Regions from separate parts of the Homo sapiens genome. Here region 2 is linked to region 1. The links come from fine-mapping of genetic effects on gene expression. A gene starts in region 1. The other region holds a variant in brackets. All regions are shown on one strand. Distances are between the middles of the regions. Region 1 holds the start of GLOD4 (glyoxalase domain containing 4). Region 2 has its middle 2.8 kb from the start of GEMIN4.

Evidence for each region. PIP is the estimated chance that this variant, and not a neighbour inherited with it, causes the effect.
Region 2: its variant is fine-mapped to the expression of GLOD4 in whole blood (TOPMed, PIP above 0.99). The same link has a PIP of 0.9 or more in blood mononuclear cells.

Annotation. Positions count from the first base shown.
Region 1 is chr17:780,872-783,896 of GRCh38, forward strand. It overlaps GLOD4 (glyoxalase domain containing 4), which reads right to left and starts at 1,409. Exons shown (of 9, transcript NM_016080.4): 1 at 1,295-1,409. The coding sequence starts at 1,384. MRM3 (mitochondrial rRNA methyltransferase 3) reads left to right here and starts at 1,482. Exons shown (of 4, transcript NM_018146.4): 1 at 1,482-1,821; 2 at 2,212-2,456. The coding sequence starts at 1,508. RefSeq lists enhancers at 340-439, 1,440-1,789, 1,461-2,009.
Region 2 is chr17:753,853-756,352 of GRCh38, forward strand. It overlaps a transcript of GEMIN4 not described here and the pseudogene DBIL5P. Among named protein-coding and RNA genes, the nearest start is that of GEMIN4, 2.8 kb to the left of the region's middle. The variant A/G (reference allele first, on the strand shown) is at 1,485.

The DNA.
Region 1 (3,025 bases):
TATTACCGATATGTTAAATACTATACATATAATAAGGTGTTGAATCTTTTTTTTTTTTTTTTTTTTGAGACGGAGTTTTGCTTTCGTCATCCAGGCTGGAACACAATGGTGCGATCTCGGCTCACTGCAACCTCCGCCTCCCAGATACAGGCGATTCTCTTGCCTCAGCCTCCCGAGTAGCTGGGATTACAGGCGTGTGCCACCATGCCCGGCTAATTTTTGTATTTTTAGTAGAGACAGGGTTTCACCATGTTGGCCAGGCTGGTGTCCAACTCCTGACCTCCAGTGATCCACCCGCCTTGGCCTCCCAAAGTGCTGAGATTACAGGCGTGGGCCACCGCGCCGGCACGTGTTTAATCTTTGCAACAACCTTTTGATCGACGAGGAAATACTAACAAGGGACAGCTCTGTGGTTTCTGCTATCGAAAGTTTGGTGGTTTTTCACTATCAAATTCTGACTTCCATTACCATCATCTACGTACAAATCCAGTTCCAACTCCCACCCCAACCCAGGCCATGAGCTCTAATGGAGGATATATATCAGGGTCATTTGCACCTTTGTTGCCAAAACTCAACGTAGTACCCTGAAAATAGCAGATATTTTAAAAATGACCTGACGAATTCAGATCCCCGTCTATTGCACCGTCTATACACTAAACCGCGCTCTTGCACCTTTCAAGTCTTCCTTAGTGGTGTGTTCCCTACCTCCCTGGCTTATCAAAGGAGGTCCCCAAAACCCAGTTCCCCAACCAACTGAATCCTGCAAATAACAGCTCCTCAGGACCCGAGACAGACCGCTTCTGGGTGCTGTTGAAAAGCAGATGGGTTGAGAGTTGGAGCATATATTCAGAGACTGAGTATCCGAAACGGACTATTCAGACCAGCCTTGCTAGAAGCAGAACTCTGAATACGCTGATTTTATCTACATCAAAGGCTCCAAACCGGAAAACACAAATATTAACTAGAAAGCATTATATAACATTTTATTTACCGTCTTTTCCGGTAGACGGTAAGCTCCACAAGGGCGGGGCTCAATAAACGTTTACGAGTGGCTTAAATGAAAGGACGTGCGTGGGCACACCGCGGGGACTAATCGTGTTAGGCCCTTCTCCAAGGCCTATGATCCCCAACGGCAACTCGCCACGCTCCTGAAGCTGAACACCGCGCAGGGCCTAAGGTCGGACACCCTCCGGCTTAGGTTCACGACACACCCATTTTCCCCTCCCTCCGCCAGGGCCGGCTCGGGCGCCGGTTCCAGCCTCGCGCGCCAGCCCCTGTCGGCCCCGGCCTGCACCTTCATCCCCAGGACGTCCCGATAGAAACGCGCCGTCTGGAAGCGGTTTCCCACTTTGAATACGAAGTGCAGAGCTCTGCGAGCAGCCATGATTCCCGCCGCACGCAGCCGTCACGCGCACCGTACAGCCCAGTCCACGAAGGGCGCCACGGGCCGTGACGTCACTAGCCGCCGACGGCGCGCTTTCGTGACGCAGCCCGGGTCTCAGGGAACATGGCGGCGCTGGTGAGACCCGCGAGGTTTGTCGTGCGACCGTTGCTGCAGGTGGTCCAGGCTTGGGACCTTGACGCGAGGCGCTGGGTCCGGGCGCTGCGGCGGAGCCCAGTGAAAGTGGTGTTTCCTTCCGGAGAGGTGGTGGAACAGAAGCGCGCTCCTGGGAAGCAGCCCCGCAAGGCACCATCTGAGGCCAGTGCCCAGGAGCAACGAGAGAAACAACCGCTCGAGGAGTCCGCATCCCGCGCTCCCAGCACCTGGGAAGAGTCTGGGCTTCGCTACGATAAAGCTTATCCCGGGGACAGGAGGCTGAGGTGATGTGGTTCTTGAGCCTGTCGAATGTTCTCGTTTCCCTTCCCGTCGCACAGCGGAACCTTAACCTCCTTCCGATGGAGGACTTCTTCCAGTACAGCCCGCTGGTTTTTGTATTATGCACAGAGGGCCGAATAAGCGTCTTTGGAATTAGCTTCTGTTTCTCCTTAGCTCTTTGTTGTTGTTTTTGTTTCACCATGTTAGCCAGGCTGATCTGGAACTCCTGACCTCAGGTGATCCGCCCGCCTCGGCCTCCCAATGTGCTGGGATTACAGGCGTGAGCCACCGCGCCCGGCCCTCTCCGTAGCTCTTTATTTCTGTTACAACTAAGCGTGTCTCAGTAACAAGGATGTTGATAGTTACCTGTTTTTTTTTTTTATTTCCATCTACAGCAGTGTAATGACAATAGTAAAGTCCAGGCCATTTCGGGAAAAACAAGGGAAGATCCTGCTGGAAGGTCGCAGGCTCATTTCAGACGCTCTCAAGGCTGGAGCTGTGCCAAAAATGTTCTTCTTTAGCCGTCTAGAATACCTAAAGGAGTTGCCAGTCGATAAGCTGAAAGGTGTCAGCCTCATTAAGGTGAAATTTGAGGATATCAAGGATTGGTCCGACCTCGTAACGCCACAAGGAATAATGGGTTAGTGATTACCCAGTGTATCTTTTTTTTTTTTTGTCTTGTTCTGTCACCCAGGCTGGAGTGCAATGGCGCGATCTCGGCCCACTGCAACCTCCGCCTCTCGGGTTCAAGGGATTCTCTTGCCTCAGCCTCCGCAGTAGCTGGGATTACAGGCGTCTGCCACCATGCCCGGGTGATTTTTGTATTTTTAGTAGAGGTGGGGTTTCACCATGTTGGCCAGGCTGACGTCGAACTTGTGACCTCAGGTGATCCTCCTGCCTCGGCCTCCCAAAGTGCTGGGATTACAGGCGTGAGCCACCATGCCTGGCCTTACACAGTGTATCTTAAGGTGTGGAGACCTAGGATTAATTTCTCATACTTGTCTTAGGACAGCAGCATTGAAATGAAATTCAAAATGTTACAATTAGAAAAATATAATTCTCAAACCTGTGTATCTTAGAGTATTTTCAATGGAAATTGAAACCCGTTTTTCACTATCATTTGTGTTGTGGCTCTTTATGGTCTCTAGGAAGAACCACTATTCCTCAAACCTTCTATTTTTTAGATTACTTCTTCAACTTTCTATGTCA
Region 2 (2,500 bases), 27 kb before region 1:
TCAAGGCTGATTTACTAATACCCCAGCACCACAGAGGGGAGAGGGACTCTGTCCTCCTAAACACTAAAGTCAAGTCCAAAAGCCCCCACTGGAACACAGGGCCTACCCGGTTCATGTTTTGAGGGAGACCAAGCTTTCCGTGATGATAATGTGATGAAACAATTGATGCGCCAGAACACAGCAGTTTAGAAACAATGGAGCAGATGGTGTCAAAATCCCAGCCCCAGAAAGGCTCACCTAAGGCCGGGCAACCAAAATGTTCCCGGGACTATTCTGTACTTAACCCTGGTTTCTGCTTAGGGGACGGTGGGACAATATGCATATGGATGTCTATGTGGGATTTGTTGCAAGAGCACAACACACCCCTTGACCTATGCAAGTGCCAGAGTGTCTGAGCCCAGCTTCTACTCCTGTTAATGATCACAGGAGCCTCATACACAACCATTGTGCATGGCGGCTGGAGTATGGAGTAGTAAATGGTATCCAGAAAGGCAGGTCTACGGTGGCATATGGGATTTCCTGGTACTTCTTCTTTAATAGAAACTATCTTCACAGATCATGACATCAGGTCAGCTGCAGTTCTCACTGGGACCAATAAACAATAGAAGCAACAACCATAAAGACTTAAGAGGACAAAGGAAACCAAACCTCACTGTGTGTCTTCAAGATCTGTTCACATAGTTGCAGGAAGTTGCTGTAGACAAAGTACATTACTAAAGAATGAAGCCCACCCAGGACATCACAGCAACGAAAGAACTATTTCTGGTAACTGTGGACCAGGTGAGAGCCACACTGTAGAACAGCAGTGCTGCCCTCTCTTCTTTGGCGAATGTTATGAAGACATTCTGATGCACTTAGGATCATGATTCATGTTAAATGTAAATTAATTGTAAAAATAATACATCTTGCTCCAAAATGTGGTGACAATTTAGAAGCTGTCCACATAGCCAGACCACTCTGTAAATCACAGAACCTAGAAAGTAAAAATGTGCCATAATTAGGACAGCAGAAAGTAACAGTAAAATAAAGTTTTAAAAAAAAAAACAGAAAATAAGGATTTATCTATTTGTATTTGCTTAAGAAGAGGTTACCTATAGGATGCAGGGGGAATGGGATTGATGGGCATGGGGTATACTGTGAAAGGAAAATAAAATCTTGGGACCAAATTCACTAAGCGAAAAGGAAAAGTTAAGCTTGGAAATTGAGTCATGGAATATGCAAAAAACTTCCTTTTGTTCCTAAACAGATAAGCTACAAGACAGAAGGCCACATATCTCCCCAGGTGGTCTCCCTCACCTGACAATATAAATTAACAGCTTATCTTCATAGGTAAGGGACAAAGACAACACCAGAAACCATCCCTCACCAGCCGAGACAAAACATAGATGTACTGAGCTGAATGCATAACTGTTCCTCTGCCTGCTGCTTTCACTGTAACATATAGATTTGGTGAGCAGTAAATGTAGATTTACTGAGCTGAATGC[A/G]TAACTGTTCCTCTGCCCGCTCCTTTCACTGTAACATGTAGATTTGGTGAGCGCTAAATGTAGATTTACTGAGCTGAATGCATAACTGACTGTTCGTCTGCCCGCTCCTTTCACTGTAACATGTAGATTTGGTGAGCACTAAATGTAGATTTACTGAGCTGAATGCATAACTGAGTGTTCCTCTGCCCGCTCCTTTCACTGTAACATGTAGAGTTGGTGAGCGCTAAATGTAGATTTACTGAGCTGAATGCAAAACTGACTGTTCCTCTGCCTGCTCCTTTCACTGTAACATGTAGATTTGGTGAGTGCTAAATGTAGACTTACTGAGCTGAATGCGTAACTGTTCCTCTGCCCGCTCCTTTCACTGTAACATGTAGATTTGGTGAGCACTAAATGTAGATTTACTGAGCTGAATGCAAAACTGACTGTTCCTCTGCCTGCTCCTTTCACTGTAACATGTAGATTTGGTGAGTGCTAAATGTAGATTTACTGAGCTGAATGCAAAACTGACTGTTCCTCTACCCCCTCCTTTCACTGTGACATGTAGATTTGGTGAGCGCTGATCAAAGCCTAATAAGAATGTAACCACTTATCTCCCTACCTACCCTCCTGTATTTTTCCTTTCCCTCTTCCCTCCCTTCCTGCTCTTTCCCTTTTAAATACTTGTTAGGAATAATGCTCAAAATCCTAAGGAAATAGAACACTCGAACAAAGGATTCTTAGCAAAGCAATTTTACTTCTGTGCAGAGGGGTGCCTCCTTGGCCAGTTGTCATGAGAGCACACCTGAACAAAGGGGCACGAGAGCCTTTGTTCCTGACACAAGTCCTGCCCCTCTACCCTTTCCCCATTGGCCGGGGTCAGGTCGTACAATCTAAACTAATCGCGCTTGGCTAAACATTTGATTTTTTTAGATAGGGTGGGCCCGTAAAAGAAAGCGGAGAGGAAGGGGAAGGGGTGTCTGTAATGAGCTAGAAAGTTAGTCCTCTTTCCAAATAAGGAAAGGAATGTGAGCTGG